2 separate regions of the Homo sapiens genome follow, and region 2 is linked to region 1. The links come from fine-mapping of genetic effects on gene expression. Tissue or cell type: atrial appendage. Region 1 holds a variant in brackets; the other region holds the start of a gene. All regions are shown on one strand. Distances are between the middles of the regions.

Region 1 (8,106 bases):
CAAAAAAAGCACACAGTGAAGCTGTCCTATTCTATAGGCTTATATATAAGCCTATAGAATATTTTTTTTGAGGTGGAATTTCACTCTTGTTGCCCAGGCTGGAGTGCAGTGGCGAGATCTCGGCTCACTGCAACATCTGTCTCCCGGGTTCAAGCAATTCTCCTGCCTCAGCCTCCTGATTAGCTAGGATTATAGGTGCCCACCACCATGCCCAGCTAATTTTTTTGTATTTTCAGTAGAGACGGGGTTTCATCATGTTGGCCAGGCTGGTCTCGAACTCCTGACCTCAGGTGATCCACCCTCCTCAGCCTCCCAAAGCGCTGGGATTAGAGGCATGAGCCACCGTGCCCGGCCAGAATACATGTTCTTCTGGGGCTCCACATCAATGTCCTAGGCTTACACCTGCATTGTCCTTCCAACTGTCTTGGGCAGGTGACTTTGTGCACACGATCCTCTTTCTTCCTCTGTGGAAGGATGACGATAACTTCTACCTCACTGTGTCATTGTGAGCACTCAGTGACACATGGCGTGTAAAGTCCCTGGCACAGAAAATAAATTCAATAAGAGGGGGACGCAGAGGGGGACGTCCACATGTGTCAGGCCTCGTGTTTGTGCTTGGGAAATTGTAGGGGTGGGTTGCCCCTCCACACCTGTGGGTGTTTCTCGTAAGGTGGAACGAGAGACTTAGGAAAGAAAAAGACACAGAGACAAAGTATAGAGAAAGAAATAAGGGGACCCGGGGAACCAGCGTTCAGCATATGGAGGATCCCGCCAGCCTCTGAGTTCCCTTAGTATTTATTGATCATCTGTGGGTGTTTCTCGAAGAGGGGGATGTGTCAGGGTCACAAGACAATTGTGGGGAGAGGGTCAGCAGACAAACACGTGAACAAAGGTCTTTGCATCATAGACAATGTAAAGGATTAAGTGCTGTGCTTTTAGATATGCATACACATAAACATCTCAATGCTTTACAAAGCAGTATTGCTGCCCGCAGGTCCCACCTCCAGCCCTAAGGCGGTTTTTCCCTATCTCAGTAGATGGAGCATACAATCGGGTTTTATACCGAGACATTCCATTGCCCAGGGACAGGCAGGAGACAGATGCCTTCCTCTTGTCTCAACTGCAAGAGGCATTCCTTCCTCTTTTACTAATTCTCCTCAGCACAGACCCTTTACGGGTGTCGGGCTGGGGGACGGTCAGGTCTTTCCCTTCCCACGAGGCCATATTTCAGACTATCACATGGGGAGAAACCTTGGACAATACCTGGCTTTCCTAGGCAGAGGTCCCTGCGGCCTTCCGCAGTTTTTGTGTCCCTGGGTACTTGAGATTAGGGAGTGGTGATGACTCTTAAGGAGCATGCTGCCTTCAAGCATCTGTTTAACAAAGCACATCTTGCACCGCCCTTAATCCATTTAACTCTGAGTTGACAGAGCACATGTTTCAGAGAGCACAGGGTTGGGGGTAAAGTTATAGATTAACAGAATCTCAAGGCAGAAGAATTTTTCTTAGTACATAACAAAATGGAGTCTCCTATGTCTACTTCTTTCTACACAGACACAGTAACAATCTGATCTCTCTTGCTTTTCCCCACAGAAATTTATGGTCAGTAAAGGAGATAAGACTGATGCTATCTGGGCCAGAAGATGGGAAAGCCCAGTGTTCTGGGGGTGACTTCCTGCTTGAAGCAGGAAGCTGGGTCTTCAATTGTTCATTCATTCATTCACTCGTTGTTCAGCTATGAAGGCTCAGCTGAGTTCCAGCCAGCAGGAGTGGGTGGGGAGTGCAGAACAGAAGGAAAGGCAAGCCTGGTTGAGGGAACTCAGCAGGCAAAGGACCAATGCTAAAGGGGCTGGAGCCAAATCTGGCTCTGAGAACCAACACGATCCTTGCTCATTTTGAAGCACCCCAGTTCTCGGTGCACTGGATGGATCTTACATGGCAGAAGGGATGAGGGTCTCCCTGGGGTCTCTTTTATAAGAGGGCACCAATCCCATTATGAGAGCTCCTCCCTCATGATCTCATCACTGACCCAAGCCTCATCTCCTAATACCATCACCTTGGGCATTAGGATTTCAACATATAAAACCTTTTTATTTCAACATATAAAATAAAATAATTTATTTTTATTTTAATTTACTTTATTCATTTTTATTTTATTTTACATTTATTTTATATTTGTATTTATTTTATTTTACATTTATTTTATATTTGTATTTATTTTATTATACATTTATTTTATATTTGTATTTATTTTATTTTACATTTATTTCTATTTTATTATTTTATATTTTTATTTATTTTATTTTTGTCTTATGACCTCACTAGAGTAGTTGAGGGCATTACTCCCAACTTCTTCCACTCGTCAAAGCAGTCCATACATTTATTTTTATTTTTATTTTTATTTTTTTGTGTGTGACAGTGTCTCACTCTATCGCCCAGGCTGGAGTGCAGTGGCACGATCTCAGCTCATTGCATCCTCCGCCTCCCGGGTTCAAGCAATTCTCCTGCCTCAGCCTCCCAAGTAGCTGGGACAACAGGCGCGCACAACCACGCCTGGCTAATTTATTGTATTTTTAGTGGAGATGGGGTTTCACTATGTTGGCCAGTCTGGTCTCAAACTTCTGACCTCAAGTGATTCGCCTGCTTCAGCCTCCCAAAGTCCTGGGATTACAGGCATGAGCCACTGCACCCAGCCTATTTTTTTCATAGAATAAAGTGAAAGCAAGTTTTTTAAGAACGTAAAGGAATAAAGAGTAGCTACTCCATAGGCACAGCAGTGGCATGGGCTACTCGGCTGAGTACATTTACAGTTACTCTTTGATTATATGCTAAGCAAGGTGTGGGTCATTCATGAGTATTTCAGGAAAGGGGCAGGGATTTCCTGGAACTGAGGGTTCTTCCCCTTTTTAGACCACATAGGATAACTTGTGGACATTGTCATGGCATTTGTAAACTGTAATGATGCTGGTGGGAGTGTCTTTTAGCATGCTAATAATGTGTTATAATTAGAGTAGTGAGGACTACCAGAGGTCAGTCCTGTCACCATCTCGGTTTTGGCTGGCTTCTTTACCACATTTCATTTTATCAGCAAGGTGTTTGTGACCTGTGCTTGCCTCCTATCTTGTGCTGGCCTCCTATCTCGTGCTGGCCTCCTATCTCATCCTGTGACTAT[G/A]AATGCCTAACCTCTTGGGAATGCAGCCCAGGAAGTGTCAGCCCTATTTTACCCAGCTCCTGTACAAGATGAAGTTGTGAAATGGCCTCATTTCTGAGGTGACACCTGAGGTTTGTTGTCTCACGGCCATGGAGAACTGGGACACGGACACACAAAGAGTGAGGTTACTGCATAATTTGTGGTAGTGGGTGACTGCGTTTACACTTTCCCCTGGGGGGAAAGAAAAGAGTGAGGTTGACAGCAGAAGTTTAATAGGCAAAAGAGAGAGAATAGCTGTCTGTTACAGAGAGGGGGTCCCAGAAAAATAGGTTGCTGGTCCATGGTGAAATGCAGGGGTTTTTATAGATGAGCTGGTGGGGAGGCAGTACCTGCTCTACATAGGGTGTAAGAAACTGGTTAGGACCAGGTGTTCCATTTGCACAGGGCATGAATTTCTGGCAGCCCCCACCCCAGTCTTATTATGCAGGTGGGTTTTCAGCCTGAGCTGCACAATGTTATCCATTTCTTTCTTACTGTATACTTGCTAACAAAAAAGGGAAGATTGAGCTTTCATGGTGGACATGCCTGCCCCGCAGGTAGCCCTTTTCTTTCTTTTTTAGAATCTATTTTTATTTTTATTTTACTTTAAGTTCTGGGATACATGTGCACATCAGGCCTCTGAGCCCAAGCCTGCATGTATACATCCAGATGGCCTAAGGCAACTGAAGAACCACAAAATAAGTGAAAATGGCCGGTTCCTGCCTTAACTGATGACATTACCTTGTGATATTCCTTCTCCTGGACAATTAGTCTCTGGAGCTCCCCACCGAGCACCTTGTGACCCCCACCCCTGCCCGCAAGAGAACAATCCCCTTTAACTATAATTTTCCACTATGTACCCAAATCCTATAAACATGCCCCACCCCTATCTCCCTTTACTGACTCCTTTTTTGGATTCAGTCTGCCTGCACCCAGCTGATTAAAAAGCTTTATTGCTCACACAAAGCCTGTTTGGTGGTCACTTCACATGGACGTGCATGACAGTGCAGAACATGCAGGTTTGTTACATAGGTATACATGTGCCATGGTGATTTGCTGTACCTATCAACCCGTCATCTAGGTTTTAAGCCCCGCATACATTAGGTATTTGTCCTAATGCTCTCCCCGCCATCCCCCCACCTCCTGACAGGTCCGAGTATGTGATGTTCCCCTCCCAGGTAGCCCTTTTCTATTGGTGCAGCTGCTGGCTCTCCCCCATGCAAGCTTCTAGCTTCCTTATTTATGTTTGCAGCCCGATTTTTCAGGCTGCTCTTTGTTAGGAAAAATGATTTCTTGGGCTACTTTTTGTTAGAAGGGAAGTTCTGCTGAGAGCTCTTTTGCCCTCACTATCTGCCTAAATAATTTCTGTCTCCTGTGTTAGTTGCTCTGGTCTGAACACCTCTGGCAATTCTGTAACATAGAGTCATCTTTCCAGGAGACTCTCTCCCTTGCTGGCTTTGAGGAAACAAGTGGTCATGTTGGGAGGCCCATGTGGGCAAAATCCAGCAAGAAATGGAGATCCTCAGTCCTACAACCAGTTAGCAATTGAATGCTGCCAATGTAGCAGAACAAGCTACAGACAAAACCCCTCAGACACTGACTTAAAGAAGGAAGGGCTTTATTCAGCCAGTAGCTTTGGCAAGACTCACGTCTCCAAAAACTGAGCTCCCCTAATGAGCAATTCCTGTCCCTTTTAAGGGCTTACAACTCCAAGGAGGTCCGTGTGAGAGAGTTGTGATCGATTGAGTAAGCAGGGGGTATGTGACTGGGGGCTGCATGTACCGGTAATCAGAACAGAACAGAACAGGACAGGGATTTTCACAATGCTTTTCCATACAATGTCTGGAATCTGTAGATAACATAACTGGTTAGGTCAGGGGTCGATCTTTAACTACCAGGCCCAGGGTGTGGTGCCGGGCTGTCTGCCTGTGGATTTCATTTCTGCCTTTTAGTTTTTACTTCTTCTTTCTTTGGAGGGAGAAATTGGACATAAGACAATATGAAGGGTGGTCTACTCCCTTACCAACGCCCTGGTTTCCAAGCAGATCCTTCCCGAGTTGAGCCTCAGATGAGACAGCAACTCTGGCTGACATTTGGTTGCAGCTGCAAACCAAAAAGTATCTAAGACAGGTCTCAATCAATTTAGAATTTTATTTTGCCATGGTTAAGGATCATGATCCATGACACAGCCTCAGGAAGTCTTGAGAACACGTGCCCAGGTGGTTGGGTTATAGCTTAGTTTTATACATTTTAGGGAGACAGAAATTATAGGCAAAGACATAAATTGATACATGTAAGGTATACATTGGTTTAGCTCAGAAAGGCAGGACATCTTGAAGCCGCAGAGGGGGCTTCCAGGTCCCAGGTGGATTTAAAGATTTTCTAATTGTTGCTTATAACATAATATCTGAAACTGTGTAATTTATAAAGAAAAGGAACTTATTTCTTACAGTCATGGAAGCTGAGAAGTCCAAGGTTAAGGGGCCACATCTCGTGAGAGCCTTCTTGCTGGTGTGGACTCTCTGCAGTCTATAGAGTGCAGGGCATCACATGACAAGGGGCCATGCTAGCTCAGGTCTCTCTTCCTCTTCTTATAGGCTACTAATGCCACTCTCATAATAACCTATTAATTCATTAACCCATTAACCCATGAATGGATTAATCCATTCATCAGAGCAGAACCTGCATGACCCAATCGCCCCCTAAAGGTCCCACCTTTCTATACTGCCACATTGCCTATTAAGTTTCAACATGAATTTTGAAGGAGACAAGCATTTAAACCGTAACAACGTGGTTTCCATATTTGATATGAGAATGATTATTAAAGTTCAGGTCCTCTGTCCTGTTCTCTGTGTCCTCATCTAAAATTTGACACATTGGCCAGGCGTGGTGGCTCATGCCTGTAATCCCAGCACTTTGGGAGGCTGAGGTGGGTGGATCATTTGAGGTCAGGAGTTTGAGACGAGCCTGGCCAACATGGTAAAACCCTGTCTCTACTGAAAATACAAAAAAAATGACCTGGGCATGGTGGTGTGTGCCTGTAATCTCAGCTACTCAGGAGGGTGAGGCATGAGAATTGCTTGAACCCAGGAGGCAGAAGTTGCAGTGAGCTGAGATTGCACCACTGCACTCCAGCCTGGGTGACAGAGTGAGACCCTGCTCCAAAAAATAAATAAAATAAAATAAAATAAAATTTGACACATCACATTAAGTTAATGACAGAGACAAATTTTCTTTTTCCTTTTCCACCAAAGGAAAGCCATATGGAGTCAATTTTAGAAAATACAAACTGAAATATTAGCTATTAGTACTTTTTTTGGTAAAAGTATTGGTGGTGTGTGGGAACATATTATTGATGAGATGTTAGATGCTTGTTTTCTGGGCTCGCATGATAACCTGTGATGAGGACTCTGTGTTTTTGTCCCCAAGATCTGCTCTCTGATATTCAACCTTCTCCATCCTCCTCTGTGTCCCAGAAGGCCACCTGCATTAGTTATTTATTGATGTATGACTAATTACTCCAAAATGTAGTGGCTTAAGACAATAAAACATTTGTTATCTCATAGTCTCTTTGAGTCAAGAATCTGGGCTCAGCTTAGCCAGGTCTTTTCCCTCTGATGCGATCAAGCTACTGGACGGGGGCTGCAGTGTCATTCAAAAGCTCAACTTGGGATGAGGGTATGGGGTGATTGTTCTGCTCCCAAGCTCACTCAGATGGTGTTTGCTACTGGCAGGTAGCTTTCCCCTCAGAAAGTGATTCAAGACAGAGTGAGAGAGAAGTTGAAAATAGAAGCAACAGCCATTTTGTAACCCAATCTGAGAAGTGACAGCCATCACTTTCTGCTGTACTTCATTCATTAGAAATGAGTCACTAGGTACAGCCCACACTCAGGGGGAAGGAATTAGATGAGGGCATGAATATAAAGAAACAGGGATCATTGGTTCTTGCAACTTCTCTCTAGTAAAGGAATTGCAGTAGACTTGCATCATACACACATTTAATTTATGAAATTTTAACTATAGAAACAGGTGGAAATACAGCTCTAATTTGAGGCAGCAGCTCCATCTATGGCTCAATGGTGAAGCTGTATTTTGCAGATTTGTCCTGTTGGGTACTGAGCATCTCTGTACACACTGTAAGTATGCATACAGCTACTGCTGTACAACATTTTATGTATAAAACCACATTCACTGCATGCATAGGGGATTTAAGACATATTCAAGGTGAAACCGAGCTAACCTCAATGTTCACCTTCACTCCTAAACCTAAAGAATGCTTTCACTTGATTCAGAATTCTGGGTTGACAGTTGTTTTCCTTTCAGCACTTAAAAAATGTGCCACCAAGATACAGGTCATAAAGACTTTGCTGATGAAACAGGATGTGGTAAAGAAGCCAGCCAAACCCACCAAAACCAAGATGGCGACAAAAGTGACCTCTGGTCATGCTCATTGCTCCTTATGTGCTAATTATAATACATTAGCATGCTAAAAGATATGCCCACAAGCACCATGACAGTTTAGAAATGCCATGGCAACATCTAGCACTTACCTTATATGGTCTAAAAAGGGGAGGAACCCTCAGTTCCAGGAATTGCCCACCCCTTTCCAGGAAAATTCATGAATAATCCACCCTTTGTTTGGCATATAATCAAGAAGTAACTGTAAGTGTACTCAGTTGAGCAGCCCATGCCATTGCTCTGCCTATAGAGTAGCCATTCTTTTATTCCTTTTCTCTCTTTCTTTCTCTTTCTTCTTTCTCTTTCTTTCTTTTCTTTCTTTCTTTCTCTCTCTCCTTCCTTCCCTCCTTCCTTCCTTCCTTTCTTTCTTTCTCTCTCTCTCTCTTCCTCTTTCTTCTTTCTCTTTCTTTTCTTTCTTTCTCTCTCTCTCCTTCCTTCCCTCCTTCCTTCCTTCCTTC
Region 2 (8,106 bases), 80 kb before region 1:
TGACTGCATGGAGAACTGAGGTGCAGTTTCCTATTTCCAGCCCAGAGCTTTCTCCTGCTTTTCAGATCTGAGTATCCAACCATCTGGGTGGCACATAAAATCCAACATGTCCCAGCGGGCTGGGCGTGGTGCTCACACCTGTAATCCCAGCAATTTGGGAGGCCGATGGGGGAGGATCACTTGAGCCCAGGAGTTCAAGACCAGCCTGGGCAACATAGTGAGACCCTATCTCTATTAAAAAAAAAATTTCAACATGTCCCAGATGGAACTCCTTAGCTGTCCTATATCTCGATGTTGCTGCTTCCCTAGGATTTCATACGATCCTCAGCACATCCAAAATCTGCTTGCTGACATGCTCCCCAACCCTACCCCATCAAACTGATTTTTTTTTTTCTTTTTTTGAAACAGCGTCTCACTCTGTTGCCCAGGCTGGAATGCAGTGGCATGATCACGGTTCACTGCAGCCTCCAACTCCTCGGCTTAAGCCATCCTCCCACCTCAGTCCCCCAAGTAGCTGGGACTACAGGCACACACTACCACTCCTGGCTAATTTTTAAATTTTTTGTAAAGAAGGGGTGTCACTAAATTACTTAGGCTGGTCTCAAATTCCTGGACTCAAGTAGTTCTACTGCCTTGGTCTCCCAAAGTGTTGGGATTACAGACGTGGCCACCGAGCCCAGACCCAATCTGCTTTGCTTTTTCTCACTTCGGTTGATGATACCTGAATCCCTTCAGCAGAAGGATGAGGTTCTGGGCTGTGTTTTGCAGGAGATGTAGGGGACTTGGAGGATTCTTAAACTGGACTTGCTAGAATTAAGACCACGCCTACCTGGCTCTTACCCTCTGACCTCCCAGCTTTACTCTCAAGCTGGACATCTGTTCTATCCCAACCCGTCTTGGCAGCTAAGCTCATAGACTATGGGATCCTAATGCTGCCCACTGGCGGTGTGGCCTTGGGCAAATTACTCAATCTCTCTGTGACTTGGTTCGTCTGTGAAATGAGGATAATATGAATACCTAGTTCTTAGGGTTGTTATGAAGTTTGAAATACACACACACACACACACACACACACACACACACACACACGCTGTTCTCTGAATGATCCAACAAAGAAGTAAGCTCTATGCCATTTTACAGATAAGGAAACTGAGGCATGGAACAGTAAATTGACTTGCTTGATGGCTCACAATAAGTGCAGTGCTGGGATCATACCCAGGCCACCTGAACTCCTTAATGACCATGCTGTGCAGCTTCCAAAGGGGGCACCTGTGACCTGGGAACCCCGGAAATGTGGGGAGAAGTCACTTCAGGCTCCACAAGTGAAGTAAGGACTGTTATCTCCAACCGGACTAGAGTGTCATTTTATGCAGATTTGTGTAATCAAATTAATGCATATGTTGAGTTGACTTTTGCCTATTTCATCCATTTCTGTAAAATTTTTTCTATTCACTGTCCAAAACTCATTTTAAAATTTAACTAGGGGCCAGGGGTGGTGGCTCACGCCTGTAATCCCAGCACTTTGGGAGGCCGAGGTGGGTGGATTGCCTGAGCTCAGGAGTTGGAGACCAGCCTGGGCAACATGGTGAAACCCAGTCTCTACCAATAAATAAAAAAAATTAGCTGGGTGTGATGGCATGCGCCTACAGTCCCAGCTACATGGGAAGCTGAGGTGGGAGGATCGCTTGAGCCCAGGAGGTGGAGGTTACAGTGAGCTGAGACTGGGCATGGTGGCTTATTCTTGTAATCCCAGCACTGGGAGGCCAAGGTGGAAGGATTGCTTGAGGCCAGGAGTTTGAGACCAGCCTGAGCAATATCAGTAAGACCCTGTCTCCACAATCTTGCTTTTAAATTGAAAAAAAAAAAAATAAGGGCATACAATCTATTTACAAGTGCTGTACCCTCATGATCTAATCACCTCCCACAAGCCCCACTTTTTTTTTTTTTGAGATGGAGTCTTGCTCTGTTGCCCAGGCTGGAGTGCAGTGGCATGATCTCGGTTCACTGCAACCTCTGCCTCCTGGGTTCAAGTGATTCTCCTGCCTCCCAAGTGGCTGGCATTACAGGCATCTACCACCATGCCCAGCTAATTTTTGTATTTTTAGCAGAGACGGGGTTTTACCATGTTGGCCAGGGTGATCTCGAACTCCTGACCTCAGGTGATCCACCCACTTCAGCCTTCCAAAGTGCTGGGATTACAGGTGTAAGCCACCGTGCCAGGCCCAAGCCCCACCTTTTAATACCATCATCTTGGAGGTTAGGATTTCAACATATAAATTCTAAGGGGATCTGTGTCCTGTGGAAATGGCAAGGGGCCACAGCACCTCCCTCCCTCAATCACCTTCTTCTGGTCTCTCCTCTAAGGTCACTTCTTGAGTGAGGTCTCCCTGATGACCTCCTTTCCCATGTCACATCATTCTGGTTCGTATTCTTTACTCAGCAAGTCATAACCACTGCGTGCCTCCATTTTTCAATCTGTAAAATGGAGACAATAATGGCGCTGGCCTCATGGAGTTGTTTTAAGGTAAAAATGAGTAAATATAGAGTAATGGTTCTCAACCAGGGGTGATTCTTATCCCAGGGTGGAGACATTTGGTAATATCTGAAGACATTTTTGGTTGGCATGACTAGGAAGCTGCTACTGGTACCTAGTGAGTAGAGGCCGGGGTGCTGCTGAAATCTCTGCAATGCACAAACCCTCTACTAGTAAGAACTGGCCAATACAAAACATCAGTAGTGCTGAAGCTGAGAAACTATGCTTTAGGGAAAATGTTTAAGATGGTGCCTGGCTCTTAACGATCACCCAAGAAATGCCAGCTGTCATTATTGCCCACCACCCTTTCCCTCACACTTTGCCCCGAGTGGATTCATCAGTAAATACTCGCTTTATAAACATAAAGATTGAGGGATGCATTCCTCACAACCAGGCATACAGTAAGTGCTCGATAAAAATTTGGTTAATGTTAGTGCATGTGAAAGGTAAATGAGATGGTGCATTCTCCAGTGTCAGGCACAAGGCGGGCATTTCATAGATATTTTATTAGTTAATGCATGTGAGGGTTAAAGACTATCTCTGGGGATTGGTACACAGTAGATGCTCAATATGTGTCAAGTGAATAAATGAGAGGACCAAATGAAATGGTGTTTGCACAGCACCTGGTGCATGGTAGCTGCTCAGGGCTCATTAGCTTCCTCACCTCATCCCCAGACCCTAACACTTACCAGCTACCTGGACCTCAGTCTTGGCCTTCATAGTCCATTCAGAGTTGATGGTAATGGCTACTTGGTAGGTGCCACTGTCTGTAGGCTGGGCGCGGCGCAGCAGCATGGAACCATTGGGGAAGCCCACGATGTCTCGCTGTCCCATGGCACTGCCATCCCTCTGAGGCCGTTGTATCCCAGGGATGTAGGTAAATAGCCTCGTGCCTCCGTACGTCTCCTCCCCCAGGTACCAGTTGAAGTCCTGGAAGGTGTCTGGGACACCCTGGACTGACAGGAGAAGGTCCTGGTTCTTTTGAGGCTGCTCTGGAATCTTCTGGATGTAGAGAGCTGCCTGGGAGCCTTGGAGCATCCAGAGGACCAGGATTGAGGCTGTGGGAAGTTACAGGGAAGGGCTGAGATCAGGGGTGTTGCCAGGGACCATGGCATGCTCCTCTCTAGATACAGATCTTCAGCGGGGAGCAAGGACTCTGAGTGCTGCTCATTGGAAACAATGCTGGGATTGATTAGTGATGTCTGCCCTGGGTGCAGGAGTGGGAACACAGGCATGGTTACCACAGATTTGCCATCCTGTTGATCCAGAGGTTTTTCTACCTTGAGATGCTGTGTGGCCTGCTTCTAAACACATGGACTCTCTGAATTCATTCATTCATTCATTTATTCAACCAATACTTATAGGCATATGTAATATATAAGCTATAATACCAACTATATGTAATACATCTAAACTTCCTTCAATTTCTAGACACTGGAGATATAGCAGGGAACCAAACATACATAAATTCCTGCCTTCATGGTCCTAACATTATAGAAAATTCCATAGATAAAATGGCAATGAGGCTGTGATTCTGTTGCCCCTCCCCCATCTTATTCTAATTTCATCCTCTCAGGTAATCTTTCCCTACTTCTAAGAGGAAACTTCAATCTCTGGGCTGAGTCCCCATTTCTCCCCTTGGCCTTTAGGGTCTATTTCCTCCTTACCTGAGAGCAGGAGGCTCTTTGAGAAGCAGCCCTGGGTCCCCATGGGAATCTCCATCTTGGCGTCTTGTGGAAATGCCAAGGGGCCACGAGCTGGACACTAAGGGGGCCAGAGGGGTGGGCCCTGGCTGTCTGAAGTAGGCCAGCTCAGTGGGGATCCCAGGGGTGCCTTAGAGACACCGCTGGGGCTGGCCCAGCCCCAGCATGCCCTGTCCATGGGCTCTGGAGGCTCCACCTATACTCCCTGGGATGGGAGCACAGACAGAGGTTGAACCAGTTTTTCAGGGTGACTGGGGAACTTCCCAGGACTCCTCCCCTGACCCTCTTCAACCTCTTTTTCTCACTCAGCGTGACTACAACAGCAGTCACTGTAGCAATAGTCATAACAGCCTCTGTTTGAACAATTCCCCTGGGTTTGTTCAAACACACACTGCCTCATTCAGCAGCCACCATAAATAACTGTTCCCATTGCACAGATGTGGAAACAGAGGCCCAGGAAAAGAGGCAAGTCTGCCAATAGACAGAGGTGGGATTTCACCTGTGGCTGACTCACTTGAAGGCTCTGAGGCAGGCTGGGTGCGGTGGCTCACGCCTGTAATCCCAGCATTTTGGGAGGCCAAGGTGGGTAGATCACGAGGTGAGGAATTTGAGACCAGCCTGGCCAACATGGTGAAACCCTGTCTCTACTAAAAATACAAAAGTTAGTCAGGCGTGGTGGTGGGCACCTGTAATCCCAGCAACTGGAGAGGCTGAGGCAGGAGAATCACTTGAACTTGGGAGGCAGGGGTTGCAGGGAGCCGAGATCGCGCCACTGCATTCCAGCCTGGGTGACAGAGCGAGACTTCGTCTCAAAAAAAAAAAAAAGCTCTTAGCCTCGTGTTTTTCTTTTTTTTTCTTTTGAGATGGAGTTTCGCTCTTGTTGCCCAGGCTGGAGTGCAATGGCGCAATCTCAGTTCACCGCAACCTCTGCCACCTGGGTTCAAGCGATCCTCCCACCTCAGGGAGTAGCTGGAAATGCAGGCATGCGCCACCACGCCCGGCTACTTTTGTAGTTTTAGTAGAGACAGGGTTTCTCCATGTTGGTCAGGCTGGTCTTGAACTCCTGACCTCAGGTGATCTGCCCACCTTGGCCTCCCAAAGTGCTGGGATTACAGGTGTGAGCCACCGCGCTCAGCCTGTTTTTTTTTTTTTTTTTTTTTTTTTTTTTTCTTGAGACAGGGTCTTGCTCTGTCTTTCCATTCATGAACATTGGTTGTCTTACCATTTAAATATGTCACCTATAATTGCAAGAATATTTTGTAGTTTTTGGATTGGTTTCTTTTTTAGATGCTGTGTCACCCAGGCTGGAGTACAGTGGCACAATCTCAGTTTACTGCAACCTCCGCCTCCCAGGTTCAAGTGATTCTTCTGCCTCAGCCTTCTGAGTAGCTGGGATTACAGGCATGCGTCACCATGCCTGGCTAATTTTTGTATTTTTAGTAGAGATGGGGTTTTGCCATGTTGGCCAGGCTGGTCTCAAACTCCTGACCTCAGATGATCCTCCTGCCTCGGCCTCCCAAAGTACTAGGAGTATAGGCATGAGCCACTGCACCCAGCCCCAGAGTGTATGTTTTGTACTTTTTTGGATCATGTTTATTCCAAGTGTGTTATTCTTTTTTTTTTTTTTTAAGACAGGGTCTCGCTCTGTTGCCCAGGCTGGAGTATAGTTGCATGATCATTGCTCACTGCAGCCTCCAACTCCTGGGCTCAAGCAATCCTCCCGTCTCAGCCTCCTGAGTAGCTGGGACCACAGTTGTGTGCTACCATCCCTGGTCAATTTTTATATGTTTTGTAGAGATGGGATCTCACTATGTTGCCCCAGGCTGGTGTTGAACTCCTGGGCTCAAGTGATCCTCCCACCTTAGCCTCCCAAAGTACTGGGATTACAGATGTGACTCACCATACCTGGCTTAGCCTAGTTTTTAAAAAGCATCCTCCATTCATTCCAGCACACATTCCCAGTGCCCAGTTGTGTGTGCTGGGTGATGTTGGTGACACAGTGATGATTGAGACCACCTCTGCTCTGCCCTCTGTCCACAGTAGGGCACACAATCCTGTAGGGTTTGGGGGGGCAGACCCCTCTCACACAATTATGATCCAGAGTGATCAGGGCTGGGATGGAGGAGCCCAGGAGTCTGGGAGAGCCCAAGGAGACACACCTCATTCAACCTGACGGCTAGGGAGGGCTTCCTGGGGGAGGGGGCATCTGAGCTGAGACCTGGAGTAAGAGTAGAAATGAGGCAGATGATGGGGTGAGGCAGCATGAGGTGCACCAGGCAGCATAAATAGCAATGCAAGGATGTGGAGGCTGAGATAGTCATCAAGGTGTATTGAGGAGGTTGCAATATCTTGGGTGAGTGGAGCCAGGAAGGAGGGTGTGGGGCCTGTGTGTGTGAGGCTGGGAGGTAGGAGAGATCAAATGTGCTCTGTTGGTTGGATCAACAGAGCTTGGATAATGGAGGGTCTAGTGTTATGCTGTTTAATATCATAGCTATTAGTCATATGTGGCTATTTAAATATAAATTTAGGGAGGCACAGGTGACCCACACTTGTAATCCTACCCCTCTGAGAGGCTGAGGTGGGAAGATTGCTTGAGCCTAGGAATTGGAGACCAGGCTGGGCAACATAGTAGGACCCCAACTTTACACAAAACAAATTTAAAAAATTAGGTAGGCTTGGTGGCTTTCAACTATAGTTCCAGTTACTCAGAAGGCTGAGGCAGGAGGATTGTTGAACCTGGGAGGTCAAGGCTGCAGTGAACTTTGATCATGACACTGCACTCCAGCCTGGGTGACAGAGTGAGACCATGTCTCAAAAAAATATACTGAATAGGCCAGGCGTGGTGGCTCATGCCTGTAGTCCTAGCACTTTGGGAGGCAGAGGCAGGCAGATCACTTGAGGTCAGGAGTTCAAGACCAGCCCGGGCAACATGATGAAACCCTGTCTCTACTAAAAATGCAAACATTAGCTGGCCGTGGTGGCGCATGCCTGTAATCCCAGCTACTCGGGAGGCTGAGGCAGGAGAATCACTTGAACCTGGGAGGTGGAGGTTATAGTGAGCCAAGATTGTGCCACTGCACTCCGGCCTGGGCAACAGAGCAAGACTCCATCTCCAAAAAAAAAAACTGAATATATATATATTATTTTATATATAATATATATTATATATAATTATATATTATATTATATATATTATATTATATTATATTATATATTATATTTATATATACATATTATAATATATAATATAATATATAATATATTATAATATATAATATATGTATATAATTATATAATTATATACATATATAATATGTGTATATAATTATATAATTATATACATATATAATATGTGTATATAATTATATAATTATATACATATATAATATGTATATAATTATATAATTATATACATATATTATATATTTATATTATAACTAATATATAATATATATAATATATATAATATATATATTATATTATATATATTATATATTATAAAATATATATAATAATATATAAATATATTATATATATAATATATAAACATATTATATAAATATATTATATATATAATATATAAACATATTATATAAATATATTATATATATTATAAACATATTATATAAATATAATAATATATAAACATATTATATAAATATAATAATATATAAACATATTATATAAATATAATAATATATAAACATATTATATAAATATAATATATAAATATTATATAAATATATATATAATATATAAAATATATTATATATAATATACTATATAATATAGCATATAAATATATATAATATATTATATAAAAATATATAACATATTATATAAAATATTATATAAATATATAATATATAA

Evidence for each region. PIP is the estimated chance that this variant, and not a neighbour inherited with it, causes the effect.
Region 2: it holds the start of CEACAM19, and the variant in region 1 is fine-mapped to the expression of CEACAM19 in atrial appendage (GTEx, PIP 0.99). The same link has a PIP of 0.9 or more in left ventricle.

The regions. Positions count from the first base shown.
Region 1 is chr19:44,587,582-44,595,687 of GRCh38, reverse strand. No RefSeq gene overlaps it. Among named protein-coding and RNA genes, the nearest start is that of IGSF23, 22 kb to the left of the region's middle. RefSeq lists enhancers at 1,180-2,005, 5,738-6,237. The variant G/A (reference allele first, on the strand shown) is at 3,173.
Region 2 is chr19:44,668,081-44,676,186 of GRCh38, reverse strand. CEACAM19 (CEA cell adhesion molecule 19) reads right to left here and starts at 4,705. Exons shown (of 8, transcript NM_001127893.3): 1 at 4,201-4,705; 2 at 3,223-3,591. The coding sequence starts at 4,255.